Regions from separate parts of the Homo sapiens genome. Here region 1 is linked to region 2. Evidence: fine-mapped expression QTL. A gene starts in region 2. The other region holds a variant in brackets. All regions are shown on one strand. Distances are between the middles of the regions. Region 1 overlaps RBP7 (retinol binding protein 7). Region 2 holds the start of LZIC (leucine zipper and CTNNBIP1 domain containing).

The links. PIP is the estimated chance that this variant, and not a neighbour inherited with it, causes the effect.
Region 1: its variant is fine-mapped to the expression of LZIC in monocytes (Quach 2016, PIP 0.95).

The regions. Positions count from the first base shown.
Region 1 is chr1:10,007,372-10,023,051 of GRCh38, forward strand. It overlaps RBP7 (retinol binding protein 7), which reads left to right. Exons shown (of 4, transcript NM_052960.3): 2 at 199-377; 3 at 802-903; 4 at 8,411-8,650. The coding sequence ends at 8,461. Among named protein-coding and RNA genes, the nearest start is that of UBE4B, 18 kb to the right of the region's middle. RefSeq lists a silencer at 1-126. The variant C/CA (reference allele first, on the strand shown) is at 8,077.
Region 2 is chr1:9,936,663-9,952,342 of GRCh38, forward strand. It overlaps LZIC (leucine zipper and CTNNBIP1 domain containing), which reads right to left and starts at 6,729. Exons shown (of 8, transcript NM_032368.5): 1 at 6,587-6,729; 2 at 5,962-6,120. NMNAT1 (nicotinamide nucleotide adenylyltransferase 1) reads left to right here and starts at 6,813. Exons shown (of 5, transcript NM_022787.4): 1 at 6,813-6,853. It also overlaps the pseudogene RN7SKP269 and the pseudogene TMEM274P. RefSeq lists enhancers at 2,162-2,662, 2,663-3,163, 5,758-6,328, 5,862-7,061, 6,329-6,898.

The sequences.
Region 1 (15,680 bases), 71 kb after region 2:
TTTGCAAACTTTTTAATCAGGCTGTGGTTGGCAGTTTGCCAAGACGATTCCTTGTAGATCTGATTTTGGCAGCAAACAACATAGAAGTCGTACAGGAAATGCTAACAATTACATGTGGTGATTTTGAGAACAGCTACCAAATTCTTCACTTTTGTATCTCAAGCGAATGTTCAAATATTTTTAAAAATTATTTTTAAGGTATTGACTTTGCCACTCGTAAAATAGCCAAGTTGCTGAAGCCACAGAAAGTGATTGAGCAGAATGGGGATTCTTTTACCATCCACACGAACAGCAGCCTAAGGAACTACTTTGTGAAATTTAAAGTTGGAGAAGAATTTGATGAAGATAACAGAGGCCTGGACAACAGAAAATGCAAGGTAAAATGTAAAGAAATGCCAGGTGCGGTGGATTACGCTTGTAATCCTAACACTTTGGGAGGCCAACGCAGGCGGACCACCTGAGGTCAGTAGTTTGAGACCAGCCTGGGCAACACGGCAAAACCCTGTCTCTACAGAAAAAAATTCAAAAAGTAGGGGGGCGTGCTGGCAGGAGCCTGTAATCCCAGCTACTTAGGAGGCTGAGGCAGGAGAATCACTTGAACCCGGGAGGTGGAGGTTGGTTGCAGTAAGCCAAGATCGTGCCACTGCACTCCAGCCTGGGTGACAGAGTGGGACTCCATCTCAAAAAAAAAAAAAAGCAGTAAGTAGGCTGTTGATTTTGCAAGGGTAACTTGGCATTCTACTTCGTAACACTTGAGGATCCTGCCAGGACAAGCTAACATTTTCTCCTCTCTTCATGCAGAGTTTGGTTATCTGGGACAATGACAGGCTCACCTGTATCCAGAAGGGAGAAAAGAAGAACAGAGGCTGGACCCATTGGATCGAAGGAGACAAACTCCACCTGGTATCCACCACATTTTGTTCTTAATGAGATGATACAGTATTAAAGGAAACATCAGGCCAAGCGTGGTGGCTCACACCTGTAATCCCAGCATTTTAGGAGGCCGAGGTGGGTGTATCACTTGAGGTCAGGAGACTAGCCTGGCCAACATGGTGAAACCCCATCTCTACTATTTTTTTTTTTTTTTTGAGATGGAGTATCGCTGTGTCACCAGGCTGGAGTGCAGTGGCGCGATCTCGGCTCACTGCAACCTCCACCTCCTGGGTCCAAGCGATTCTCCTGCCTCAGCCTCCCGAGTAGCTGGGACTACAGGCACGCACCACCACACCCAGCTAATTTTTGTATTTTTAGTGGAGACGGGGTTTCACCATGTTGGCCAGGATGGTCTCGATCTCTTGACCTCATGATCCACCCGCCTCGGCCTCCCAAAGTGCTGGGATTACAGGCATGAGCCACCACCACACCTGGCCCATCTCTACTGAAAATACAAAAATTAGCCGGGCATAGTGGCGCATGCCTATACTCACTCTCATCTTATATTAAATGAAACAGCCGAATATTCCGACAGAGGCAGGAAGATAACATGCAAATACTCATGGAACAATTCTTACCTATTATATGTAATAGCTACTTTATGTATACATAGATATGCATAGATAGATATAGTAGCTCACATCTTTGGAGTGATTATTTTGGGCCCAATTACTGTGCTCAATCCTTTGAGTGCATTATCTCATCTAATCTTCACAACCCTGTGAAAAGGACGCCATTTTTCCCATTCACAAATAAATTGGGATTTTGAAATTCCCCAAGGCTGCTGTCAGAAGCATCAGAATCCAGTTTAAAAGGGTTTATTCAGACTGGGCGAGGTGGCTCACGCCTGTAATCCCAGCACTTTGGGAGGCTGACGTGGGCGGATCACGAGGTCAGGAGATCAAGATCATCCTGGCCAACATGGTGAAACCCCGTCTCTACTAAAAATACAAAAATTAGCTGGGCATGGTGGCACATGTCTGTAATCCCAGCTACTTGGGAGGCTGAGGCAGGAGAATTGCTAGAACCAGTTAGTCGGAGGTTGCAGTGAGCCAAGATCGCACCACTGCCCTACGGCCTGGTGACAGAGGCCGTTTCAAAAAAAAATAAAACAAAATAAGGGTTTATTCAGGCATGAAGATGAGAATGGCCACCCAGGAAACACAGACTCCAAAGAAATGGGGTCAGTACACCCAAGCTGAAAAGTTAATGTCTTATTTTTTTTTTTTTTTTGAGATGGAGTCTCTCCCTCTGTCACCCAGTGTCACCCACGCTGGAGTGCAGTGGTGTGATCTCAGCTCACTGCAACCTCTGCCTCCTGGGTTCAAGCGATCCTCCCACCTCAGCCTCCCGAGTAGCTGGGACTACAGGCATGCACCACCACACCCAGCTAGTTTTTGTATTTTTAGCAGAAACGGGATTTTACCATATTGGCCAGGCTGGTCTCGAACTCCTGACCTCAAGTGATCAGCCCACCTGGGCCTCCCAAAGTGTTGGGATTACAGGCGTGGCCGCTTGTAATAAAAATTTAATTTCTTGGAATGTAATTCTTGGAGTTTTTCTTTTCCTTTCTTTTTCTTTTTCTTCTTTTACTTTTAAGCTGTTGGACTTGAGGTGTTTTTCTTTAATGGCTTTATTGAGGTATACTTTATGTACCAAAAAATGCACCTGTTTTAAGTGTACAGTTTGATAATTTCTAGTAAATGTATACAGGTGTACAACCATTCCCATTATCCAGTTTCAGACAAGTCAATCACTCCAAAACATTCCCTAGAGGCCATGTGCTGACAACTATTATTTTACAGCCTGTTTTGTTTTGTTTTGTTTTTGAGATGGAGTCTTGCTCTGTTGCCCAGGCTGGAGTGCAGTGGCATGATCTCAGCTCGCTGCAAACTCTGCCTTCTGGGTTCAAGCAATTCTCCTGTCTCAGCCTCCCAAGTAGCTGAGACTACAGGTGCATGCCACGACACCTGGGTAATTTTTGTATTTTGAGTAGAGACAGGGTTTCACCATATTGGCCAGGCTGGTCTCAAACCCCTGACCTCAGGTGATCCACCCGCCTCTGCCTCCCAAAGTTCTGGGATTACAGGCGTGAGCCACTGTGCCTGGCCTGTTTTTGTTTGTGTTTTTGAGACAGAGTCTCCCTCTGTCATCCAGGCTTGAGTGCAGTGGCGCAATCTCGGCCCCCTGCAACCTCCACCTCCTGGGTTCAAGGGATTCTCCTGCCTCAGCCTCCCAAGTAGCTGGGATTACAGGCACCCGCCACCATGCCCAGCTAATTTTTTTTTTTTTTTTTTGAGACGGAGTTTCGCTCTTGTTGCCCAGGCTAGAGTACAATGGTGCGATCTCGGCTCACCACAACCTCCACCTCCCGGGTTCAACGATTTTCCTGCCTCAGCCTTCCCAAGTAGCTGGAATTACAGGCATGCACCACCACGCCTGGCTAATTTTGTATTTTCAGTAGAGACGGGGTTTCTCCATGTTGGTCAGGCTGGGCTTGAACTCCCGACCTCAGGTGATCCGCCCACCTCGGCCTCCCAAAGTGCTGGGATTATAGGTGTAAGCCAGCATGCCCGGCCATGCCCAGCTAATTTTTGCATTTTTAGTAGAGACATGGTTTTGCCATGTTGGCCAGGCTGGTCTCGAATTCCTGACCTCAGGTGATCTGCCCGCCTTGGCCTCCCAAAGTGCTGGGATTACAAGCGTGAGCCACCCGACAGACAGAAAACAAAGAAATTTCGCAGGATTACAACATTTTCTATACAAAGCTGTTTTATGAGTTACAGGAATTTGATTAGTTACCACTCAGTTTTTTCCTTTTTCTTTCCAGTTTAAAGAATATATTTAACATTCTTTATTTTATTTTTCTTCCCCCTCATTCTTGCTGTCATCTTAAGAGTATATTTAACATTCCATCTTAGACAACGTGATAGTCATCTGTCTTTGTATTAGAGAAGGAAGAGGTTCACCTGCTTTGGGAAAAAAAAAGAGAGAAGAAACAGGGAAGTGAGTCTGTAATTAAGATCAACAGTAGAGGGAAGTCTTCTCTGGTGCCCTTTAGTTTTTTACAAAACAGTGTAGGTAAAGAAAAAGGCTAATCTATAACCAGAGAAATTAAGGTTATAGCTGTCTAGGTTACAGCGGCCTTTCACATGACTCAGGTCCCACAATCACATTCCTTTAAGACTCAAAATAATTTAAAGTTTCATCAGCTTTGATTGTGAATTACGTATTTTCACACTGTAGGGTGAAGATTCAAATACAGGTCTGACAAGAATGTGTGCTCTCAGCTCTGTGCTTTTTTGCCTCACTGTATGTGTGAAATCTAGGTGAGACCCATGAGAACAAAACTAGAGCACTGTCCTTAAAGTTGGGTCTGGGTAGTCTTTGAATACCAAGGCCTTGAAGATATTTTGATTCTAGATGGACAAATCTCACACTCTTCTGACGATAAAAAAGTAAGAGGTCAGGCATGGGATTACGGGTTCACGCCTGTAATCCCAGCACTTTGGGAAGCTGAGGCAGGCGGATCACCTGAGGTCAGGAGTTCGAGACCAGCCTGGCCAACATGATGAAACCCCATCTCTACTATAAATACAAAAATTAGCTGGGCGGAGCCGGGCGCAGTGGCTCATGCCTGTAATCCCAGCACTTTGGGAGGCCAAGGTGGGTGGATCACTTGAGGTCGGGAGTTTGAGACCAGCCTGACCAACATGGAGAAACTCCCGTCTCTACTAAAAAATATTTAAAAAAAAAATCAGCTGAGAGTGGTGGCGCATGCCTCTAATGCCAGCTACTCAGGAGGCTGAGGCAGGAGAATCACTTGAACCTGGGAGGAGGAGGTTACGGTGAGCCGAGATTGCACCATTGCACTCCAGCCTGGGCAACAAGAGTGAAACTCCATCTCAAAAAAAAAAAAAAAAAAAAAATTAGCCGGGCTGTGGCAGGCACCTGTAATCCCAGCTACTCAGGAGGCTGAGGCATGAGAATCGCTTGAACCCGGGAGGCAGAGGTTGCAGTGAGCCAAGATCATGCCACTGCACTCCAGCCTGGGGGATACAGCAAGACTCTGTCTCCAAAAAAAAAAACAAAGTAAGAAACTTGCCTTCGCAAATACGTAATATGGAATTTCAAAGAATATATACATATGTTTGAGGATTTAGATTAGTTGGTTTGTAAGAGGTAATGTTCAAATTATGCACAACAGCTGGGTGTGGTGGTACTTGCCTGTAGTTCCAGTTACTGGATAGGCCAAAGCGGGAAGATTGCTTGAGCCCAGGAGTTTGAGTCAAGCCTGGGGAACGTAGGACTAGCCTGTCTTTAAAAAAAAAAAAAAAGAAAAGGAAGGCTGGGCATGGTGGCTCACACCTGTAATCCCAGCACTTTTGAGAGGCCGAGGCAGGTGGATCACCTGAGGTCAGGAGTTCGAGACCAGCCTGGCCAGCATGGCGAAACCCCGTCTCTATTAAAAATACAAAAATTAGCCTGGTGTGGTGGCAGGCACTTGTAATCCCAGCTACTCGGGAGGCTGAGGCAGGAGAATCACTTGAACCTGGGAGGAGGAGGTTGCAGTGAGCCAAGAGCCAAGATCGCGCCACGGCACTCCAGCCTGGATGACAAGAGTGAAACTGTCTCAAAAAAAAAAAAAAAAAAAAGAGAAATACCAAATGTGTACATCCTTCTCTAGCATACCCTGGAAATCTGCCCATGCAGGGCACAGAAGTACTTTTGTTCTAAGGATACTCATGGAATGCTTCTTACTTACCATGATTTTTTTTTTTTTTTTCAGACAGAGTCTCACTCTGTCGCCCATCCTGGAGTGCAGTAGCTTGATCTCAGCTCACTGTAACCTCCTCCTCCTGGGTTCAAGTGATTCTCCTGCCTCAGCCTCCCAAGTAGCTGGGATTACAGGCGCCCGCTACCATGCCCAGCTAATTTTTATATTTTTAGTACAGACAGGGTTTCACCATGCTGGTCAGGCTGGTCTCAAATTCCTGACCTCAGGTGATCCACCCCCCTCAGCCTCCCAAAGTGCTGGGATTACAGGCATGAGCCACCGCGCCCAGCCACCATGATATATTAAAAAATATTTGGTTGCTGGGTGTGGTGGTTCACTTCCGTAATCCCAGCACTTTGGGAGGACACGGCAAGAGGATCACTGGAGTCCAGGAGTTTAATACCAGCCTGGGCAGCATAGTGTGACTCTGTCTCTACAAAAAATTGGCTGGGGGCAGTGGCTCATACCTGTAATCCCAGAATTTTGGAAGGTCGGGGCAGGTGGATCATCTGACGTTAGGAGTTGGAAACTAGCCTGGCTAACATGGTGAAATGCTGTCTCTACTAAAAAATACAAAAATTAGCCGGGTGTGGTGGCGGGCACCTGTAGTCCCAGCTACTCAGGAGGCTGAGGCAGGATAATCACTTGAACCCAGGAGGTGGAGGTTGCAGTGAGCCGAGATCGCGCCATTGCACTCCAGCCCGGGCAACAAGAGCAAGACTCCGTCGCAAAAAATTAAAAAAAATTAGCTGGGCATGGTGATGGGTGCCTGTAGTCCCAGCTACTTGGGTGGCTGAGGTGGGAGGATTACTTAGGCCCAGGAAGTTGAGGCTAAGGTGAGCCATGACTGCACCACTGCATTCCAGCCTGGGCGAAGGAGTAAGACCCTGTCTCCAAATAAAAAAGGAGTAAGGCCTTGTCTCCAAATAAAAAAAAAGATCTTTTGTGTGTTAACGACATGACTGTCTACTGAGGGTCCTTAGATAGCTTCAGGATGGGGGATGGTCACCAGAAAATCGAAGGCATGATTAGAGGGTTGGAACTTTCAGCCTCATCCCTGAGGGAAGAGGGGCTGGAGATTGAACTAATCACAAATAGCCATTGACTTAATCAGTCATGCCTATGTGCTGAAACATCCACTAAAAACTAAACCACGGGGTTTAGAGAGCTTCCATGTTGAACGGTGAACATTCATGTGTGTGGTGAATACATTGAGGTGCTGGGAGGGCTGTGTGCTCCCCCTTCCTACTTTGCCCTATGCGTCTCTTCCATCAGGCTGTTTCTTTTCTTTTCTTTTCTTTCTTTTTTCTTTTTTTTTTTTTGAGATGGAGTCTTGCTCTGTTGCCCAGGCTGGAGTGCAGTGGCGCAATCTTGGCTCACTGCAACCTCCGCCTCTTGGGTTCAAGCAATTCTCCTGTCTCAAGTGTCCTGAGTAGGTGGGATTACAGGCATGCACCACCACACCCGGCTAATTTTTGTATTTTTAGTACAGACAGGGTTTTGCCATGTTGGCCAGGCTGATCTAGAACTCCTGATCTCAGGCGATCTGCCCGCCTCGGCCACTCAAAGTGCTGGGATTACAGGCATGTGCGCCCGGCCCCATCAGGCTGTTTCTGAGTTGTTTATTTTATAATAAACTGGTAATAGTAAGTAAAGGGACTTTCTGAGTTTTGTGAGCCCTTCTAGCAAATTATCAAGCCCGAGGAGGGGTTGTGGGAAAACCTGATTTGTAGCTGGTCAGTCAGAAATATGGGAGGTCCCAAATTTGCGACAGGTGTCTGAAGCTGGGGGGAGTCTCGTGAGACTGCATCCTTAACCTATGCAGTCTGTGCTAACTCTGGGTAGTTAGTGCCCAAATTAAATTGGCTTACTGGACACTTGGTTGGTGTCAGAGAGTTGGAGAAGTGGGACTGGAAAAGACATCACACAACTGGTGTCAGGCGTTTAAAAACCCACACCTTTGGTGTCAGAAGTGTTGAGAGTAGGCCAGGTGTGGTGGCTTATAACTATAATCCTAGCACTTTCGGAGGGCAAGGCAGGAAAATCATTTGAGGCTAGGAGTTCAAGACCAGCCTAGGGGTCAGGCGCAGTAGCTCATGCTTGTAATCCCAGCACTTTGGGAGGCTGAGGCGGGCAGATCATGAGGTCAGGAGTTCAAGAACAGCCTGGCCAACATGGTGAAACCCCGTCGCTACTAAAAATACAAAAATTAGCAGAGCATGGTGGCACACACCTGTAATCCTAGCTACTCAGGAGGCCGAGGCAGAAGAATTGCTTGAAGGCAATTCCGCTTAAAGGCAGAGGTTGCAGTGAGCCAAGATTGCACCACTGCACTCCAGCCTGGGCTACAGAGTGAGACTCCATCT[C/CA]AAAAAAAAAAAAAAAAAGACCAGCCTAGGCAGTGGCAACCCTGTCCCTACAAAAAACACAAAAATTAGCCGGGCATGATGGCACGTGCCTGCAGTGTCCCAGCTACTTTGGGGGCTGAGGTGGGAGGATCGCTTGAGCCTGGGAGGCAGAGGTTACAGTGAGCCGAGATCTCACCACTGTACTTAGCCAGGACGACAGAGTGAGACCCCATCTCATAAAAGAAAAAAACATGTTCCAGAAAAGGGTTAAAACACAATAAAAAATAAGTGTTGAGAGTAAAAACAGACCACATGCAAACTGATCCTTCTTTTTCCCTTCCTCCTTACGCCCTAGGAAATGTTCTGTGAAGGTCAAGTGTGCAAACAGACATTCCAGAGAGCCTGATCCACATCCAGCAGCAGAGCCCACTTGTGGCTGCAGCTTTATGCCAAATTATATTGCAGACTGAACAGACGTTTATCTATCCCATTTGGCGACGAGGACTCGTGGCTGGAGAGAGCCACACAGCGTGTAACCTGAAGTCATCTAGATTATGGGGAAACTGCTCAGCTTCAATAAACCTGTCCAAATGACTCTGAAGTTTTTCCTTTCCGATTTAGGAAATCCCAGCATTTAAAAAAATATTTGAAAGTCTTCTAGGCACATGAGAGACACACCAGTGAACAAGCTGTCAGTCCTGCCTTCAAGGCTAGTGAGGAAGCTGGCCAAAACAAGCAACCTGAACAGCCACCAGAGCTCTGGGGGTGGGGGGCAGATGACTTTGAGGGATGGGCAGATGGTGATATTGACAGGGGTCTGGGATGGTGATTTTGTTTCTTTTCTTTTCTTTTCTTTTCTTTTTTTTTGAGACAGAGTCCTGCTCTGTCACCCAGGCTAGAGTGCAGTGGCTCCATCTCGGCTCACTGAAACCTCTGGCTCCTGGCTTCAAGCAATTCTCCTGCCTCATCTTCCCAAGTAGCTGGGATTATAGGCATGTGCCACCACACTCAGCTAATTTTTGTATTTTTAGTAGAGATGGGGTTTCACCATGTTGGCCAGGCTGGTCTCGAACTCCTGACCTCAGGTGATCCACCCACCTTGGCCTCCCAAAGTGTTGGGATTACAGGCATAAGCCACCGTGCCTGGCCAGCAGTTCCTCTTTTTTTTTTTTTTTAAACAACATTTAGAATCTCCCCAAGGGTAGCTTAGAGAAAAGAAAATCCAAGACAGGAAATCAGAAGCTATCTATGGGGGGAAAAATAACCTTAATAATGGCAAAGTTACACAAATAACAAACCAGAAAGGAATCATTCCAGAAGCCAAGAATTCAACCCAGATCACCCTTGTCAAAGGACAAAGCCTTAGCTACTGAGCTACACAGCATTGGGCAGTTTCCTTCTTTTTTTTTTCTTTTTTTTGACGGAGTCTCACTCTGTTGCCAGGCTGGAGTGCAGTGGCACAGACTCGGATCACTGCAACCTCTGCCTCCTGGGTTCAAGTGATTCTCCTGCCTCAGCCTCCTGAGTAGCTGGGACTACAGGTGTGTGACACCACGCCCAGCTAATTTTTGTATTTTTAGTAGAGATGGGTTTCACCAGGTTGGCCAGGATGGTCTCGATCTCTTGACCTTGTGATCCACCCACCTTGGCCTCCCAAAGTGCTGGGATTACAGGGATGAGCCACCGCACCCAGCCCTGGGCAGTTTCTATTGCTATTCCCAGAAGAAGTCTAGCCAAATTCAAGATTTCAAAGGCTCTTAACTGCTCAAGATAATTTTTTTTTTTTGAGACAGAGTCTTGCTGTGTTGCCCAGGCTGGAGTGCAGTGGCGTGATCTTGGCTCACTGCAAGCTCCGCCTCCCGGGTTCACGCCATTCTCCTGCCTCAGCCTCCCGAGTAGCTGGGACTACAGGCACCCACCACCACGCCTGGCCAATTTTTTTGTATTTTTAGTAGAGATAGGGTTTCACCATATTAGCCAGGATGGTCTTGATCTGCTGACCTCATGACCCACCCGCCTCGGCCTTCCAAAGTGCTGGGATTACAGGTGTGAGCCACCGCGACCGGCCTGCTCAAGATAATTTTTAGGGCTAACTATGACATGAACCCCAAAATTCCTGTCCTCTAGATGGCAGAAACCAAGATAAAGTATCCCCACATGGCCACAAGGTTAAGCTCTTATGGACACAAAACAAGGCAGAGAAATGTCATTTGGCATTGGTTTCAGGGACCCATAGCAACATTTGTAAATGACCAGCCTGATGGGCTGGCTTGAAAACTTGGCTTATAGGCATCCTAAACCCACGTTCTATCCCCTGATACTCCCCTCTTCATTACAGAACAACAAAGAAAGACAAATTCTTAGCATAAAGTACACCAGATTTGCTACAGCCTAAGACTGGTCTGACAAATCCTTTTTTTCTACTAATCAGACCCTCGCAGAGAAGACAAATAGTGGCATTTACCGTTTACACAACATATACAGAGAGAGAGAGACCAGAAACTTGGCTGGTAAGAATTTCTTCCTCTGGCCAGGAGCGGTGGCTCACACCTGTAATCTCAGCCCTTTGGGAGGCTGAGGCGGGTGGATCAGAAGGTCAAGAGATCCAGACCATCCTGGCCAACATGGTGAAACCCCGTCTCTACTAAAAATACAAAAATTAGCTGGACATGGTGGTGGGCGCCTGTAGTCCCAGCTACTCAGGAGGCTGAGGCAGGAGAATTGCTTGAACCCAGGAGGTGGAGGTTGCAGTGAGCCTAGATCACGCCACTGCACTCCAGCCTGGCGACACAGCGAGACTCCGTCTCAAAAAAAAAAATAATAAATAAGAAAAGGAAAAAAAAGAATACAACTCAGGAACAGCCAAATGGAGGAGATGCATGGGACAAGGTTTAGTGGGGGGCTGCGGAGCTTCCTTGCCCTCTGCAGGTGCACCACCCTTGCAGTGCGTGGATATGTTTGAGGCAGGAGACCAGGGTCTGGAGGCAGGGAACCTAAGGCTGTTTTGGGCTGACTTCCTAGAACTAAATTGAAAAGAAAATCCTAACTTTCCAAGCCTAAGTAACAAAAGGACCAGAGGCTACCCCTTTGCAAACCCCTACCTTTTCTGTGGCAGATGGGAAATTGTAAGTACCTCTAATTAATTAATTAATTGCCTTTTTTTTTTTTTGAGACAGAGTCTCTCTCTGTTGCCCAGGCTGGAGTGCAGTGGCACCATCTCGGCTTGCTGCAACCTCCACCTCCTGCGTTCAGGTGATTCCCCCACACTTACTGGGCTGCATTCCCAGAAGGTTAAGGCATTCTTAGTCACAGGATGAGATAGGAGGACAGCACAAGACACAGGTCACAAAGACCTTGCTAATAAAACAGGTTGTGGTAAAGAAGCCAGGAAAACCCACCAAAACCAAGATGGTGATGAGAGTGGCCTCTGGTCTTCCTCACTGCTCATCATACACTAATTATAATGCATTAGCATTAGCACCCACCACGCCCAGCTAATTTTTGTATTTTTAGTAGAGACGGGGTTTTACCATGTTGGCCAGGATGGTCTCCATCTCTTGACCTCATCATCCGCCCACCTCTGCTTTCCGCAACCAATCGGACTGATTACAGGCCACTACTTCACCTCATTTACATGGGTGAACACCCAGTGGCCAATGGGAAACCTCTAGTGGGTATTTGGACTGGAGAAAATTCTGTATCCAGGGCCCTTGAGTGGCTGCTGGGGCCCGCTCCCACCTGGTGAAATGTACTTTCATTTTCAATAACTCTCTGCTTTTGTTGTTTCATTTTTTTCTTGGTTGTGTGTTTTCTTAAACTCTTTTTTTTTTTTTTTTTTTTTGATGGAGTCTTGCTCTGTCACCCAGGCTGGAGTACAGTGGCGTGATCTCGGCTCACTGCAACCTCTGCCTCCCAGGTTCATGCCATTCTCCTGCCTCAGCCTCCCGAGTAGCTGGGACTACAGGCACCCGCCACCACGCCCGGCTAATTTTTTGTATTTTTAGTAGAGACAGTGTTTCACTATGTTAGCCAGGATGGTCTCAATCTCCTGACCTCGTGATCTGCCCGCCTCGGCCTCCCAAAGTGCTGGGATTACAGGCGTGAGCCACCGCACCTGGCCCTTGTTAAATTCTTTGTTCAAAATGCCAAAAACCTGGACACCCTCCACTGGTACTGAAGCTCACTGAACCTCCTTGTTCAGGAGTTTTCATAGAGCTCCATCTCCAGCCCCCTTCCCTCCCAGGAGGTTGGGGTGGGGCTGTTTCCACCCTCTAATCAAAGTCCTCTAATTTGGTCTTTCTGGTGAGCAGCCCCAACCCTGAGTCACATCATTAGCATAGACTCTGGTGTGTTCTAAAGGGGCTCCTTATGAATAGCAAAAGACAATCCTATCACTCAGGAAATTCCAAGGAATTTAGGAGCCCTGTGCCAGAACCAGGGAAAAAGACCAAATATATATTTCATTAAACTTTACTACATGATACAAACTACAGTTTGGAAAGACATTTAGGAATGGTAGAACAAAACAAGTGAGAAAATATAATATGTAAAAGGTCTTTTTGTCATTTCAAAATACAAGAGGTAGCTGGGCATGGTGGCTCACACCTGTAATCCTAGCATTTTGGGAGGCTGAGGCAGGAGGATCCCTTGAGCCCAGGAGTTGGAGACCAGCCTGAACAACATACTGAGACCCCGTCTCTACAAAAAATAGAAAATTAGTTGGGTGTGGTGGTCCATGCCTGTAGTCCCAGCTACTCCAGAGGCTGAGGTGAGGGGATAGCTTAAGCCAGGAAGTTGAGGCTGCAGTGAGCCAAGATTGTGCCAGTGCACTCCAGACTGGACAACAGAGCAAGACCCTGTCTCAGGGGGCTGGCCACGCATGGTGACACATCCCTGTAGTCTGAGGAGCTCAAGGTTGCAACAGTGAGCCATGATCGCACCATTCCACTTCATCCTGGGCAACAGAGCAAAACCCTATCTCTATGAAAAAAAAAAAAAAGCAAGAGGCTATCTTCTCTGAGGTTTACTATAGTTAACTTTTACAAGTATTTAATCATAATTGCTTAGATTGAATTCGGTTCAGTATATATTCCTGGAAGTTCACTATTATTATTATTACTAGGTCCTGAGAATATGAAACAACCATAAAAATGAGTGATGAATTCAATATATATTATTCTGACACTGAGAAGTATTGTAACAAAAAACAAGTTTCTAGGTCATACCAAAAGCCGGGCAAAGTGGCAGATTCCTGTAATCCCAGCTACTCAGGAGGCTGAGGGGGGAGGATTGCTTGAACCCGGGAGGCAGAGGTTGCAGTGAGCAGAGATAGCGCCATGCCATTGCACTCCAGCCTGGGCAACAAGAGTGAAACTCCATCTCAAAAAAAAAAAAATCCTTTCATGAAATTACTACCAGATGTTGGCCCTTCAGCACAACCAGCTTGGAAGCTTCATCCTTAGCAAAGAAAGATCTTCAAAGCAGGCACTTCCATGATCCACATACTTTGGATGCCCTTAAAGGGGGGGAAAAAGGGAGAGGAAGGGAGGAGAGGAAGAGGAGGAGAAATAGCATTTCAATTCTGCTTTAATATATATATATTTTTTGAGACAGAGTCTCACTCTGTCATCCAGGCTGGAGTGCAGTGGTGCAATCTCCGCTCACTGCAACCTCCACCTCCCGGGTTTAAGTGATTCTCCTGCCTCAGCCTCCCTAGTAGCTGGGATTACAAGTGTGCACCACCACCATGGCCAGCTAATTTTTGTATTTTTAGTATTTTTGTATTTTTGTTTCGCCATGTTGGTTGGGCTGGTCTCCAACTCCTGGCCTCAAGTGATCCACCCACCTCAGCCTACCAAAATGCTCGGATTACAAGTGTGGCCCCTTGTAATAAAAATTTAATTTTTTGGAATATGACTCTTGGAGTTTTTCTTTTTCTTTTTTTACTTTTGGACTCTGTTGGACTTGAGTTGTTTTTCTTTAATGGCTTTATTGAGGTATATTTTATGTACCATAAAATGCACCTAAGTGTACAATTTGATAATTTCTAGTAAATGTACATAGGTGTACAACCATTCCTACAATCCAGTTTCAGAACAAGTCAATCACTCCAAAAAGTTCCCTAGAGACCATGTGCTGACAACTATTATTTTATAGGCTTTTCTTTTTCTTTTTCTTTTTTTTCTATTTCTGTTTGAGACAGAGTCTCTTTCTGTCACCCAGGGTGGAGTGGAGTGGCACAATCTCAGCTCACTGCAACCTCTGTCTCCTGGGTTCAAGGGATTCTCCTGCCTCAGCTTCCCAAGTAGCTGGGATTACAGGCACTTGCCACCACGCGCAGCTAATTTTTGCATTTTGAGTAGACAGGGGGTTTCACCATGTTGGCAAGGCTGGTCTCGAACTCCTGACCTCAGGTGATCTGCCCACCTTGGCCTGCTGGAGGTATGTGACAAACTGATGGCAAATGGATTATGCCCCCAATGGACAGTGTTCTCAAACCGTGATCTGAGGACCCGGGGATCCCGAGACCTTTTAAGGGTATCTGTGAGATCAAAGCTATTTTCATAATAATCCTGAGATGATATTTGCTCTTCATTCTCTCTCTCTCATGAGCATATGGGAGTTTTCCAGAGACTTCCTGCCAGGCCACATCACAACTGACCTGACCCAGAAGTACATCTGAGAATTCAGCTGTCTTCTATTAAGCCAGACATTAAAGAGATTTGCAAAAATGTCAAACAAGGCCACTCTGCATGTAATAGGCTTATCTTAAAAATGAATTAATATGTCTCTTGGTTGCCGTTTCTAATACAATCCATCTGCCTCGGCCTCCCAAAGTCCTGAGATTATAGGTATGAGCCGCTGCACCCGGCCTAGCCTTTTCATATGGAGTCTCAGACAGTGAAATTCAGTCAATATATTTATAATGAATACTTTATTTTTTGAGATGGAGTCTTGCTCTTGTCACCCAGGCTGGAGTGCAATGGCGTGATCTTGGCTCACTGCAACCTCCGCCTCCCAGGCTCAAGCGATTCTCCTGTCTCAGCCTCCTGAGTAGCTGGAATTACAGGCATGGGCCACCACGCCCGGCTAATTTTTGTGTATTTAGTAGAGATGGGGGTTTCACTATGTTGGCCAGGCTGGTCTCGAACTCCTGACCTCATGATCCACCTGCCTCAGCCTCCCAAAGTGCTGGAATTACAGGCGTGAGCCACTGTGCCTGGCCTATAATGAATACTTTTTAATATTCTCTTTGTTTCTGTCCACAGCAAGAATCTTTATTTCCTGAGACCTTTTGTAGCAGATTATTTTCCCTCAGTTTCTTGCCCTTAAGAGTCTTCGGTTCTCCACAGATAAGAGTTTTGCTTTTGATATTTCCTCGACCTGCTCATAAGGATTTCATTATAACTTCTGGGTGCAATCTTTAGGAGAGTTTGCAAAACAGTCTTTTTTTTTTTTGTAATGGAGTTTCGCTCCGTCACCCAGGCTGAAGTGCAGTGGTGCAATCTTGGCTCACTGCAACCTCCGCCTCCAGGGTTCAAGGGATTCTTGTGCCCCAGCCTCCCAAGTAGTTGGGATTACAGGCGCCCGCCACCACACCTGGCTAATTGTTGTATTTTTAGTAG
Region 2 (15,680 bases):
TTAACATACCAGTGCAATTTTTTTAAGTTTTATTTTTTGTAGAGACAGAGTCTCACTATGTTGCCCAGGCTGGTCTCGGAACATCTGGCCTAAAGTGACCCTCCCATCTTGGACTACCAAAGAGGTGGGATTATAGGCATAAGCCACCACACCCAGTCCCTAGTGCAATTAAAAATATGCAGCTGCGGCCAGGCGCCGGTGGCTCAGGCCTGTAATCCCAGCACTTTGGGAGGCCGAGGCGGGTGGATCACAAGGTCAGGAGATCAAGACCATCCTGGCTAACATGGTGAAACCCCATCTCTACTAAAAATACAAAAAAGGCCGGATGTGGTGGCTCACGCCTGTAACCCCAGCACTTTTGGAAGCCGAGGTGGGTGGATCACCTGAGGTCAGGAGTTCAAGACCAGCCTGAGCAACATGGGGGAAACCCCATCTCTAAAGAGAAAAAAAGGCCAGGCACGGTGCTCACGCCTGTAATCCCAGCACTTTGGGAGGCTGAGGTGGGCGGATCATGAAGTCAGGAGATTGAGACCATCCCGGCTAACACGGTGAAACCCCGTCTCTCCTAAAAATATAAAAAATTAGGCAGGCGTGGTGGCAGGCGCCTGTAGTCCCAGCTACTTGGGAGGCTGAGGCAGGAGAATGGTGTGAACGCGGGAGGCAGAGCTTGCAGTGAGCCGAGATCACGCCACTGCACTCCTGCCTGGGCGACAGAGCAAGACTCAGGCTCAAAAAAAAAAAAAGAAAAAAAAATTACCTGTAGTCCCAGCTATTTGGGAGGCTGAGGCAGCAGGCTTGCTTGAACCTGGGAGGCAGAGGTTGCAGTGAGCTGAGATCACGCCACTGCACTCCAGCTTGGGCAACAGAGTGAGACTACATTTCAGAAAAAAAAAAAGGCAGCTGGGTGCAGTGGCTCACGCATGTCTGTAATCTCAACACTTTGGGAGCCTGAGGTGGGAGGATTGCTTGAGCCCAGGAGTTCGAGACCAGCCTGGCCAATATAGTGAGACTTCATCTCTACAAAGAATAGACAATCTTAGCTAGGCATGGTGGCGGATGCCTCTAGTCCCACCTACTCAGGAGGCTTAGGTGAGAGGACTGCTTGAGCCCAGGAATTTGAGGTTGCAGTGAGCCATGATCTTGCCACTCCACTCTGGCCTGGTTGACAGAGCGAGACCCTGACTCAAAAAAAAAAAAAAAAAAAAAAAAGCTACAGGTATATGAAAGATAGTTAAACAAAGAAAATCTTAATTTAGATATAAAAGTTTAAACTCATATAGTAATAACACCCCACAAAAATACCTGAAAGTCCTCTTTATGTGACTTGACATATTAATTAGAAGTCTTCATTATTGGTCTATCTTACTCTAAACAAATTTGGTAAATGGAAATATATATATATATGTAGATCAAATGTGACTTTGCTTTATAAAATGAATCATTATAGCCCCAAACACTCCAGATATTATCTTATTGGTCTTATGTATATTGACCTAATTACTTGTGAGCATGAACTTTTTTTTGAGATAGGGTCTCACTCTGTTGCCTAGGCTGAAGCACAGTGGCACAATCATAGCTCACTATAGCCTCAACCTCTCGAGCTCAAGCCATCTTCCCACCTCTGCCTCCTGAGTAGCTGCAAACACAGGCACACACCACCACACCTGGCTAATTTATTTTTTTGTAGAGATGGGGTCTCCCATGTTGCCCAAGCTGGTCTTGAACTGGGCTCAAGAGATCCTCCCACCTCAGCCTCCCAAAATGCTGGGATTATAGGTGTAAGCCCACAAGCCCAGCTGATGAACATCTTTTAATATGAATTTCTTCTTTGGAAATGTGACCATCTTTCTGCTGGGTTATCTTTCTCTTACTGATTTATAACATGGATACAAAGCCTTTGGCTTTTTTGAGACAGGGTCTTGCTCTGTCACCCAGGCTGGAGTGCAGTGGCATGATCATGGCTCATGCAGCTTTGACCTCCTAAGATCAAGCAATGAAGCCTTTGTAATTGCAAATATTATTTCGTCTCCTGACTAAATTTTATGTTTTTTTGTCATGGCAAATTATTATTTTTTAATAGACAAATCTATCTTCTCCTTTAAATCTTCTTCGTTTTGTGACCCATGAAGGCAGGCCCTAACCATCTCAAGATTTATACATCTTTATATTCAAGACTTTTACAAATTTTTGTTTTCTAGCTGCAGACAAAAGCCACCTGCAACATTTTTTGTTATGCTTTGAAGTAGGGGTCTAACTTTCCTTTCAAAAACACCCTTTACTAATCAGTCTTTTATTTATTGATCCAGGAGAATTTGGTCTACAATAAAGGTGGCATATTGATTAATAAATAAAAGACTGACTAGTAAAGGGTATTAGGGCAATTGGCTAGTCATTGATAATTTTCTGTTCCTAAGGAATCACTTCTTTTTTTTTTAGACTGAGTCTTGCTCTGTCGCCCCGACTGGAGTGCGGTGGCACGATTTCGGCTCACTGCAACCTCCACCTCCTGGGTTTCAGCAATTCTCCTGCCTCAGCCTCTTGAGTGCGTGCCACCACGTCCGGCTAATTTTTGTATTTTTAGTAGAAATGTGGTTTTGCCATATTGGCCAGGTCGGTCTTGAACTCCTGACCTCAAATGATCCACTCACCCCAGCCTCCCAAAGTGCTAGGATTACAGGCATGAGGCACCCCACTTGGCTTTTTTTTTTTTCTTTTTTTTTTGACACAGAGTATCGCTCTGTCACCCAGGCTGGAGTGCAGTAGGCTGGAGTGCAGTGATGTGATCTCAGCTCACTGCAACCTCCACATCCTGGGCTCAAGTGATTCTCCTGCCTCAGCCTCCTGAGTAGCTAGGATTACAGGTGTGCCACCACATCTGCCTTTTTTTTTTTTTTTTTTTTTGGTATTTTTAGTAGAGACAGTGTTTCGCCATGTTGGCCTTGGCCTCCTAAAATGCTGGGATTACAGGCATGAGCCACTGTGTCCAGCCCTCAGGCAACATTTCTTGCTATTTACATTATTATGGCTTTATCACTGATATATCTCGATAACTGATAATGACTTGCCTTTATTGTTTTCTCCTCCCCAAAATTCTTGGCTCTTCTTGTGCACTTTCTCTTCCAGATGAATTTAACAATCAGTATGTCAAGTTTCATTAAATATCCTATTGACTGGGGCCAGGCATGGTGTCTCACACCTGTAATCCCAGCACTTTAGGAGGCTAAGGCAGGCAGATCACTTGAGACCAGGAGTTACAGACCAGCCTGGCCGACACGGCGAAACCCCGTCTCTACAATAAATTAAAATATTAGCTGGGCATGGTGGTGTGTGCTTGTAGTCCCAGCTACTTGGCGGGCTGAGGTGGGAGAATCATCCAAGCCTTGGAGGCAGAGGTTGCAGTGAGCTGAGATTGTGACACTGCACTCCAGCCTGGGAGACAGAGTGAGACTCCTACTCAAAAAAAAACAAAAAACAAAAAACAAACCACAAAACTTTCCAGGTAACTTATTAAAACATGTTTTTTGTTTGTTTTGAGACAGAGTCTTGCTCTGTCGCCCAGGCTGGAGTGCAGTGGAGCAATCTCAGCTCACTGCAAGCTCCGCCTCCCGGGTTCACACCATTCTCCTGCCTCAGCCTCCCGAGTAGCTAGGACTATAGGCACCCGCCACCACGCCCAGCTTATTTTTTTTGTATTTTTTAGTAGAGACGGGGTTTCATCGTGTTAGCCAGGATGGTCTCGATCTCCTGACCTCGTGATCCGCCCACCTCAGCCTCCCAAAGTGCTGGGATTACAGGCGTGAGCCACTGCACCCGGCCTAGTTTTTGTATATTTTTTTTAGTAGAGACAGGGTTTCACCATGTTAGCCAGGATGGTCTCAATCTCCTGACCTCGTGATCCGCCCGCCTCGGCCTCCCAAAGTGCTGGGGTTACAGGCGTGAGCCACCGCACACAGCATTAAAGCATGTTTTATTTTCCTACACATAATGAAATCATTACCAGATGATTTGACATGTGTACTTCATTGGAGAGGATTCTTACAGTATATTCAAAATTAAATATAATGACAAAAAATTACTACCTAATCTATTAAAATTGGCATAAGTCATCTATGATCATTAATGATATGCAAACATAAACAAGTATTATACCCAGAAGTGTAATTTATTGTAGCTACATCTTATGTATAATAGTTTAGTGGATTTTTCCTGGAAATTGTCCATTTTAATTTTTCTCTTAAGTCTGTGGAATTTTCCAGTAAAAGTCAAGGCAAACCCAAGATGTAACTGACAATGTCTTTTCAGAGTTAGTTTCCTACAGTCTAACCACACTGGATGACTTGCTGTTCCAAAAATGTCATGCACTTTTTTGAGCCTGCATTTTTTTTTCTACCTATGAAGCCCAGTTCATTCTTCAAAGTCTAGTTCAAGTGTCACCTTCTCTACAAGGTCTTCCTTGATTTCCTCCCAATCACTAGGTTGTGAATTATTTAAGTAGGGATTTTACCTTTTCTTTCTTTCGTTCGTTCGTTCTTTCTTTCCTCTTTCTTTTTTTTTTGATGGCGTCTCACGGTCACCCAGGTGGAGTGCAGTGGCATGATCTTGGTTCACTGCAACCTCTGCCTCCTGGGTTCAAGTGACTCTCCTGCCTCGGTCTCCCGAGTAGCTGGGAATGTAGGTGCCCGCCACCACGCTCAGCTGATTTTTGTACTTTTAGTAGAGATGAGGTTTCACCATGTTGGCCAGGCTGGTCTCAAACTCCTGACCTCAGGTGATCCGCCTGCCTCAGCCTCCCAAAATGCTGGGATTACAGGTGTAAGCTATCGTGCCTAGCCTTTACCTTTTTTTTTTTTTTTTTTGAGATGGAGTCTCACTCTGTCGCCAGGCTGGAGTGCAGTGGCACGATCTCGGCTCACTGCAACCTCCGCTTCCCAGGTTGAAGAGATTCTCCTGCCTCGGCCTCCCAAGTAGCTGGGATTACAGGCACGCACTACCACGCCCAGCTAATTTTTGTATTTTTAGGAGAGACGGGTTTCACCATATTGGCCAGGATGGTCTCGATCTCTTGCCCTCGTGATCTGCCTGCCTCGGCCTCCCAAAGTGCTGGGATTACAGGCGTGAGCCACCGCACCCGGCCTTTACCTTTTCTTTATACACCAGCATCCAGCACAATCTTGGACAGACAAAAAGTGCCGAATAAACAACTGGTAGATGAATAATGAGAATTGATTGCTTCTTCTTTAGCATTCAAATCTTTTTTTTTAAAATTTTTTTTGAGACGGAGTCTCGCTCTGTCGTCCAGGATGGAGTGCAGTGGCGCGATCTCGGCTCACTGCAACCTCAGCCTCCTGGGTTCAAGCAATTCTCCTGCCTCAGCCTCTCCAGTAGCTGGGACTACAGGCATGCGTCACCACATCTGGCTAATTTTTGTATTTTTAGTAGAGATGGGGTTTCACCATGTTGTCCAGGCGAGTCTTGAACTCCTGACCTCTGGTGATCCACTTGCCTCAGTCTCCCAAAGTGATGGGATTACAGGCGTGAGTCACCGCGCCCAGCTCAAATCTTATTCTCTATTTAGCACTTATTTCTGCCTTTAATTATATATGATTTTATTATAATACGTTATCTCCTCTGACTAAACTCTGGAGAACAGAATATGAGTCTGATTCCTCTCTCAGCTTTCTCAGTACCTAATACAGAATAGAACGTCGATAATTTGGTCACGTATATAAAGGCTCAACATATTTTAAGGAGCTAAAGCTATTCTGAATACATTTCAGTAAAAATGGGTGCATTTTAAAAGCCTTAACCTGGTACTACATTAGTTGAGATTTATCCCCGAAAGATTAACTCGTTGGCACCACCTAGTAGTCACTAAATGTGGTGCACTTTTCACTTTTACGAAACTACAGAAACCGCTCTCAGACACTATATCTGGAGCGGAGGGTCCTCATTCATGCTCACCTGTCTCTTAGTACTCTGATCTCTGCACAGTGCCGACCGGTCTCAAATTGCACAAACCTCCAGTTCTTGACGTTCCGAGTGTCATAAACTTGAGGAAAATGAAATTATTCATCAGGACTACAAAAGGCTCAAAGTTCAAACCACCTCGGGGTGGAGATGCTGGAAAAAAGGAAACCATTAACAAGTAATTTTATTTGCTATATATAAACTTGCCCTAAGGCAGTCCAGATAACTTCCACTTGAGCAGCCTGAGACATCAAGGGCGGGGGCACTTTCCCCCTCGACTGCGCCTACCGCAGCCTTTCTGAGTTTCTTCCTAGCGAGGCCGAGAGGGTCTTTGAGGAAAATCCCGCATCCGGACACGCCTTGAGGGATGGCGTCAAACCCAGAGGCTTGGAAAAGGTAAGGGCGGAGAGCACGCCTCTTCCTTGAAAGTGAGGAGGGTTTGGCCCAGAACCAACAGGACTGGGTGAAGAATCAGCTCCGGCCACCGCAGCAAATCCCACCCCACGCGGGAACTTGAAGTCCGGCACGTAGGTCCCGCGGCGGCCGGGCTCCAACAGGCCCCAATTGCCACCAGAGGTAGCCGTAAACCCATGGTCCCCGAAACTCCTTCCGGGCCTACCTGACAAAAACTGGGACAACCTCCTTAGGCCCCCGGGATTCCCCCTGTGCCGCCTGACCGCCCGCCAGTCCCAGAGTTTAGGGCCAGGGGCCCCGCCTACCTGAGGGCACTGGCCTGGCGGACCGCGCCGGGGGAGCACTTCCGCTGGACGCACGCACTTCCGGCCCCCTGGAACCAATGAGAGTGCGACCGAGATGTTCCACTCGCTGGCGTCCGGGCCGCTGGTGATCTCCGGTAGCACTCGGGCCGGCGGACAGTGAGGGCGCGGTAAGCTCCCCGCAAGGAGCCCCTGAGAAACTGGTCGCTTTTTGTCCTAGATATAGGGGAGTCCAGGATGGTGTGGTGGAGTCTTTAGAGTCGAATATGACCCGAGGCAAGCTCATATTCAGGTTTGGGGCAAGGAGCTTTGATTGACCCTTAATTTTTTCAGTGGAACGGAAAACTTCGGTAAAATAGCTTCTGACCTTCGGAACAGATGGATTCACCTTGGAAAGGAAAAATCTCTTTCTAGAAGAGTCTTGAGGTCTGGCACCTTTAGGCTTAACGGGGGACGGCTGGGCGTCAGAGGAGGAAATCCTTCATTCCGAACGACTTCCCTTTCCTCCTAAATCCTTCTTTCCAAATCTGTAAAAGACTACATCTACTTTGCTGGAGGTGGTTTGACACTCATGCTCCTTGAGAAGGAGGTAATGAGCTGTAGGGCAGCTCTTAAAAAGTTACCCTTGGACGGGCGCGGTGGCTCACGCCTGTAATCCCAGCACTTTGGGAGGCCGAGGCAGGCGGATCACGAGGTCAGGAGTTCGAGACCAGCCTGGCCAACATAGTGAAACCCCGTCTCTACTAAAAATACAAAAAATTAGCTGGGCGTGGTGGTGGGCGCCTGTAATCTCAGCTACTCGGGAGGCTGAGGCAGGAGAATCGCTTGAATCCTGGAGGCGGAGGTTACAGTGAGCCGAGATCGCGCCATTGCACTCCAGCCGGGGCGACAGTTCGAGACTCCATCTCAAAAATAAAAATAAAAAAAAGTTACCCTTGGCTGTCGCGGTGTGACACCTGTAAACCCAGCACTTTGAGAGCCCGCGGTGGGAGGATCATTTGAGCCCAGGCTGGGCAACATAGCAAGACCCTCATAACAAAAAATTAAAAATAAAATTACCCAGAAACTGGTTGGAACTATTTAATGATGTTCTTAGTCCATCTTCCTGAAGTAGTCCACAGAACAACATCAGTGTTCATGGTAGAATTGTTTCATCAGGGCAGTTTTTTTTTAAGTAACAATGTCTTGTTAAAAAACAAGAGCTGTGTTGCCCAGGCTGGAGTGCAGTGGTGTGATCATAGCTCACTGCAGCCTTGAACTCCTGGGCTCAAGCGATCCTCTGGCCTTGGCCCCTCAAAGTGTTGTGGTGATTGGCACAAGCCACCGACAGGCCTGGAGTCTGAAGTTAGTTATATTTCAGCTACCCAGGATAAACTTCTAACTATGATTACCACAGAACTCTACCAAAACTAATTGTTTCACTTAGTTCTGTCTGATTATGGAATCTCTTTATTACCATCAGTTGTTTTTCAGAGTTACAATTTGAATATGAAACCATTTTTCTAGCCCACCTTAGAGAAGACTGTTGACACACTAGTTGAAATGGTTGCAATAGCCTCTACCTTGCAAGACACTTCAGATTCAAAGAATTTCCTTTGCAAAAGTCGGCCGGGTGCAGTGGCTCATGCCTGTAATCCCAGCACTTTGGGAGGCCAAGGCGGGCAGATCACTTAAGGTCAGGAATTCAAAACCAGCCCGGCCAACATGGTGAAACCCCATCTCTACTAAAAATACAAAAATTAACCAGGCGTGGTGGTCCATGCCTGTAATCTTAGCTACTCAGGAGGCTGAGGCATGAGAATCGCTTGAACTCAGGAGGTGAATGCTGCAGTGAGCCAAGATCACGACGCTGCACTGCAGCCTGGGTGACAGAGCAACTCCGTCTTAAAAAAACAAAACAAAACAAAACAAAAGAAGAAAAAAATAAAAGTACCTATTAATGCAATTATCTTTCAATTTTGATTCATAAATATGTGTGGAAGTGTCAATGTTTTGGGTAAAATGGAATTCACAGTGACAGAGTCAGTGCCATACAAAACAAAACTGGAAAATATACTTTAAAAAAATTATTTGAGCTGGGTGTAGTGGCTCACACCTGTAATCCCAGGACTTTGGGAAGCCGAGGTGGGCGGATCACGAGGTCAGGAGTTTGAGACCAGCCTGGCCCCTATGGTGAAACCCTGTCTCTACTAAAAATACAAAAAATTAGCTGTGCATGGTGGCGTATGCCTGTAGTTCCAGCTACTCGGGAGGCTGAGGCAGGAGAATTGCTTGAACCCGGCAGGCGGAGGTTGCAGTGAGCCGAGATCGTGCTCTTCAGCCTGGGCTACAGGGTGAGACTCGGTCTCAAAAAAATAATAATAATAATTTGAAAAATTTGCTGAATAAACATTTGTTCACAGTGTACTTTCCCTGATTTTTTAATTTTTGTTTTTGTTTGCCCTGTCACCCAGACTGGAGTACAGTGACACGAGCACGGCTCACTGCAGCCTTAATCTCTCAGGCTCAAGTGATCCTTGCACCTCAGCCTCCCTAGTAGCTGGGACTTCAGGTGCATGCCACCACATCCGGCTAGTTTTTGTATTTTTTGTAGAGATGAGGTTTTGTCATGTTGCCCAGGCTGGTTTCAAACTCCTGGGCTCAAGTAATCCTCCCACCTTGGCCCCGCAAAGTGCCGGAATTACAGGCATGAGCCACCCCACCCAGCCTTCCCCTAATTTTGATAATGATAATCCAATGTTCTGTTCTGGCATTTGTGTAGTTTTAGCGTGTGCAGTCTTCGAAGCAGTGGAGGTATTTGCCTTTTCTTCTCTGTGACTTAGTCATTCAGCAGTTCTATGCTAAGGGTTTTTTTATATGCCTTTAGGTTCTTGTTTAGAGTTAATGGATAATGAAAACATTTCTAATGCATAAGAGAAATGCATTCTGAAACAAAAATAGAATACAAGCCTTCAGACAGAAGGCAGAGAAGAAACTGGAGAAAGAGAAATAAGATGTTAGGTAGGAAACCATGGGAGACAGCACTGGGGAAAGTAACCTCCAGACTGGGAGTCACTGGGAAACCAGATAAATGCTCCTTGGCAGCGGGAGGAGTTGAGGACACTTCAGCTTGGTCTTGGGATGGGAGCCCAGAGAACGCAAGTTGCTCCAACTAGGTAGGGAAAATGCTGGGACAGATGAAACTTGAGTGGCTAACAAGAAGTACCAGGAGCCAAAGGCTCTCTGAACACTTGGGCCTCTTTTAAATGTCTGCCTTAAATAGCTTGTACCATTGTAAGTCTTGCATAATGGGTGAGAACATGAACTTTTAGAATCAAAGATGTCACTCTAGGTGTGGTTGTATTTGGAGTAAGGAAATAATTAAGGTTAAATGAGGTCATAAGTGTGGGGCCCTGATCCGATAGGACTAGTGTCCTTATCAGAAGAGTGAATGGAGAGCTTGCCCCTTACCCTTACATACTGAAGAAAGATTATGTGAGGACTAGCAAGAAGGTGGCCATGTACAAGACAGGAACAGAGCTGCCACCAGAGACCAAATTGGCCAAAACCTTGATCTTGGGCTTCTAGTCTCCAGAATGGTGACAAAGTAAATTTCTGTTGTTTAAGTCACCCAGTCTGTGGTATTTTAGTATGACAGCCCAAGCAGACAAATACACCATCTATATGCAGATACATCCAAATCTCTAGTCTGTTGTATGTCTGTACCTCTCCCCTGAACTTGGCTTTGTTCTCCACTTGCCTACTTATTGTCACCACTTGGATATATAATAGATGTCTCAAACTTCACTTCTCTGTAAACTGAACTCCTGATAGTCCCCTCAAGCCTACTCCATAGACATCTTTCTCTTCTCTTTTTTTTGGAGACAGGGTCTTGCTGTGTCGCCCAGGCTGGAGTGCAATGGCGTGATCATGGTTCACTGCAGCCTTGAACTCCTAGACTTAGGTGATCCTCCCACCTCCGCCTCCCAAGTAGGATGTGAGGGCAACCTGGCTGTGACATCTCTCACCCCGTTGATCACCAGGGTTGATCCGGCTGATCTGGCTGGCTAGGCCGGTGTCTCCTTCCTCCCTCACTGCTCCATGTATATCCCTCCCGAAGCTGCACACTCAAGTCGAAGAGAACGACCATCCCCAATAGAGGAGGACTAATCTTCGGTCAAGGGTATATAAGTAGCTGCGTTCCCCTGCTAGAACCTCCAAACAAGCTCTCAAGGTCCCAGGTAGCTAGGATTACAGGCACACGCCATCATGCTTCACTATCATTCTCTTCTCAATTAAAGGTAATACTGTTCTTTTAGCTGCTTAGGCCAAAAACTTTTGGAGTCATGCTTGACTTTTCTTTCTTTCACAGCCCACATCCCATCCATTGCAAATCACATTGGCTGTATGTTCCAAATACACCCAGAATTGAGTGACATCTTATCACTTTGCTACCACCATCAGGGCCAGGTCAGCATCACCTGTCACCTGGATTATTGCAGTAGCCTCCCATCTTATGTCTTCACTTGTACCCTTGCCTCTCCCTACATTCTGTTTTCAGCTTCAACTGCTAGAGAGATCCTTAAAAATATGTCAGATCATGTCACTCCTCTGCTCAAAGCCCTGCAGTGGTTGATGAGGTCTAGAGAATGTGTTGTTTCTAAATAATTTCTGTTAATCATGGTAATATAATTACTTCAAAGGAATTTCATTCTTATTGTGTGATTGCTCGCATTTCTAATTCCTAACTTAGTGCTGTGTCTGGGATGTGGAAGGTGGTCCGAAAATGTTGGTGGCGTCAAGGGATAGTGGGTATATATTAGGTAACCTCTCCAGATGAGAACAGATGAACAGTCATTTCCATGTGTTCAGGTGCTGTGCCTGTCAGAGATACTTTGGGAGATTTTATACTGAATACGTTCTTCTTGCCCATTAGTACTGTTCTTTTTCTCAAGAAATGGAGTTGTCGGCCAGGTGAGGTGGCTCATGCTCGTAATCCCAACACTTTGGGAGGTTAAGGTGGGCGGATTGCTTGAGCCCAGGAGTTCGAGACCAGTCTGGGCAATATAGTGAAACCTTATCTCTACAAAAAAATACAAAAGAGTAGCCAGGTCTGGTGGGGCATACCTGTAGTCCCAGCTACTTGGGGTAAGGGCTGAGGTGGGAGGATGGCTTGAGTCCGGGAGGTGGAGGTTGCAGTGACTGTGCCATTGTATTCCAGCCTGGGTGATAGAGCGAGACCCTGTCTCAAAATGAAGTGGTATCCAGTCCTTAATGACATTGGGACCATTTGTGAGTAACTAGTCCCTAACAAAAATACTTCAGAATTTTTTTTTTTTTTTGAGACAGAGTTTTACTCTTGTTGCCTAGGCTGGAGTGCAATGGCCCCATCTCAGCTCACTGCAACCTCCGCCTCCTGGGTTCATGTGATTCTCCTGCCTCAGCCTCCTAAGTAGCTGGTACAGGCACCCGCCACCATGCCTGGCTAATTTTTTGTATTTTTAGTAGAGACGGGGTTTCACCATGTTGGCCAGGCTGGTCTCGAACTCCTGACCTCAGGTGATTCACCCACCTGGCCTCCCAAAATGCTGGGATTACAGGCGTCAGCCACTGTGTCTGGCCCGGAATTGTTAAATATACACTGAAGTAAAAAGACAAAACACGGCTGGCCATGGTGGCTCACGCCTGTAATCCCAGCACTTTGGGAGGCCGAGGCAGGTGGATCACCTGACGTCAGGTGTTCAAGAGCAGCCTGACCAACATAGTGAAACCCCATCTCTACTAAAAATACAAAAATTAGCCGGGCATGGTGGCAGGCACCTGTAATCCCAGCTACGTGGGAGGCTGAGGCAGAATCGCTTGAACCCTGGAGGCGGAGATTTCAGCGAGCCGAAATCACACCACTGCACTCCGGCCTGGGCAACAGACCAGGACTCTGTCTCAAAAAAAAAAAAGAGAAAGACAAAACACAATGCAGGTCACTTAGCTATTTTCTCTAGAAAACAATTAGCTGTCATGATGCAGAAGATTGTTATAATCTATAAGGGGGAGGTTGTGGTTATTTTTACTCTAAAATCTTCCACTGCTTTTTTTTTTTTTTTTTGAGATGGAGTTTCACTCTGTCACCCAGGCTGGAGTGCAGTGGTGCAATCTTTGCTCACTGCAACCTCCACCTCCTGGGTTCAAGCGATTCTCCTGCCTCAGCCTCCCGAGTAGCTAGGATTATAGGTACACACCAAGAGGCCCAGCTAATTTTTGTGTGTGTATATATATATATGTATGTGTATATATATAATTTTTTTGTTTTTTTTAGTGGAGACGGAGTTTCACCATGTTGGCAAGGCTAGTCTCAAACTCCTGACTTCAAGTGATTCGCCCACCTCGGCCTCTCAAAGTGCTGGGATTACAGGCATGAGCCACCGTGTCCGGCCCCACTACATTCTTAAAGAAGCAATAAATTGACCTTGTTTAAATACACAATCTGAATTACTGGGGTCTTTTGAAACTAAACCTTTGTTCATTACTAAGATTTCTATTTTCCTTCCTCTTTTTCAGCACTTATTTCTATAGCAGTCTCCCAGCTGATGCCACTTAACTTCATTGAACAAAAAATGAGGTTTAGAAAATCACAATAATCATTGTGAAAGTATTTGATAGGAGATCTTTATTTGGGGTGAATTGGGTTATGATGTCAGTCCTGTGATTTCAGCGGAACTGTTTCTTTTTATCCATTGTCAGTGAGTGCTCATTAATACTTAAATGCAGCTTTCTTTTTCTTTCTTTTGAGACAGAGTCTCGCTCTGTCACCCAGGCTGGAGGGCAGTGACGCAATCTCGGCTCACTACAACCTCTGCCTCCCGGGTTCAAGTGATTCTCCTGCCTCAGCCTCCCAAGTAGGTGGGATTACAGGCACCTGCAACCATGCCCGGCTAATTTTTGTATTTTTAGTAGTGACAGGGTTTTGACATGTTGGTCAGGCTGATCTCGAACTCCTGACCTCAAGTGATCCGCCCGCCTTGGCCTCCCAAAGTGTTGAGATTATAGGCATGAACCACCACGCCTGGCATAATGCAGTTTTCTACTAAATGACTGATTTTGACATGCTTCCTGTTATTGGCCCTGCTGTTCAGCTGAAATAGCAGGATAGGAGATGGTCGTGTGATGGCCGATAGGTGGCAGTGCTGCTGGGACAGGCCCAGCCTGGTAGAGACGAGTATCTCAGACAGGAAAAACAGGACCCAGATGGCTCAGACTGTTGGGTTAGCATCTGGCCTTCGACAGGTCACCCTGGCCCGCCAGATCAGCCCCAGGCCTGACAAAAGCACTACAGGATAAAGAATAGGATCTCATTAAATGCAGTGGAAGTAACGTGAGAAGGATGGCTTTTCATATGCCATCCTAACCCTCCCCTCCCCCCGTTTTCTTTGCTTTGCTTTTCATACTTCTTAGCTTCTTGGATCTCTTGCTTTAAGAGGAACTAGGGTGTGGGCACAGTGGTTCACAGCTATAATCCCAGCACTTTGGGAGGCTGAGACGGGTGGATCAGTTGAGGTCAGGAGTTCAAGACTAGCCTGGCCAACATGGCGAAACCCCATCTCTACTAAAAATACCAAAATTATCCAGGCATAGTGGCACACACCTTTAATTCCAGCTACTGGGGAGGCTGAGGCAGAAGAATTGCTTTAATCCAGGAGGAGGAGGTTGCAGTGAGCCAAGATCACGCCACTGCACTCCAGCTTAAGCAACAAAGTGAGACTCTGTTTCAAAAAAAAAAAAAAAAGAGGAACTAGAGCTTAATATTCTCCTTGCAACATCACAGTCACAGTGCTGGTTGAGTAGTTACTTGCCTCGAAGGACTGGTAAGCCTTTGACAAGGATTGGTTACTTGGGAAGTTTTCTTGCTTACCTGTAGAAGTTAAGCTGCTCACCGACAGGAGCACAGACAAGTAGTAAAGTTCAGGGGTTGTTGTTTCCTACATTTGAGAGAGAAAAGGTGCTATGAGGAATACTTTGTCTTTTAATCAGAATGTGTTAAAAATGTTTTGCCACAAGGATTTAAATGAAGGTGCCAATTTAGCAAGAAATAGAAGTCTTGCTGTATACTGTGCCAAACCCAATCCAACAGCTTCAGTTTTTTTTTGTTGTTGTTGTTGTTGTTTGTTTGTTTTGAGGCAAGATGTTGCTTTGTCATCCAGGCCAAAGTGCAGTGGTGTGAGCATGGCTCACTGGAGCCTTGACTTCCTGGGTTCACGGGATCCTCCTGCCTCAGCCTCCCAAGTAGCTGGGACTACAGGCACGTGCCACCAGGTCCAGCTAATTTTTGTAATTTTTGTAGAGATGGGGTTTCTCCACATTGCCTATGCTGGTCTTCATCTCCTGGGCTCAATCGATCTGCCTGCCTCAGCCTTCCAAAGTACTGGGATTAGAGGCGTGAGCCACTGTGCCCGGCCTGTTTCACTGTTGATTAATATCTTAACTACTTTTCGAAGCTCTAGTAAAGTAGAATTCACCTACAAAAACAAAAATCTCTTGTAGAATTTTTAAACTTTCCCCAGTGAAATGTTTTAACTGTGACATGTGCCTAATCAGGTATTCCATCTCCACATATCTCTTCTTTTGGTGTCAGTAGAAAATAAATATTGAAGACATATTATTTACAGCCAAACTTTCAGATTAAGATAAGCCTTTAGAAATTCTTTGTTTATGGCTCACGCCTGTAATCCCAGCACTTTGGGAGGCCGAGGTGGGTGGATCACGAGGTCGGGAGATCCAGACCATCCTGGCTAACACAGTGAAACCCCATCTCTACTAAAAAAAAATACAAAAAATTAGCCGGGCATGGTGGCGGGCACCTGTAGTCCTAGCTACTCGGGAGGCTGAGGCGGGAGAATGGCGTGAACCTGGGAGGCGGAGCTTGCAGTAAGCACAGATTGCGCCACTGCACTCCAGCTGGGGTGACAGAGTGAGACTCTGTCTCAAAGAAAAAAAAAGAAATTCATTGTTTAAAAACATACACAG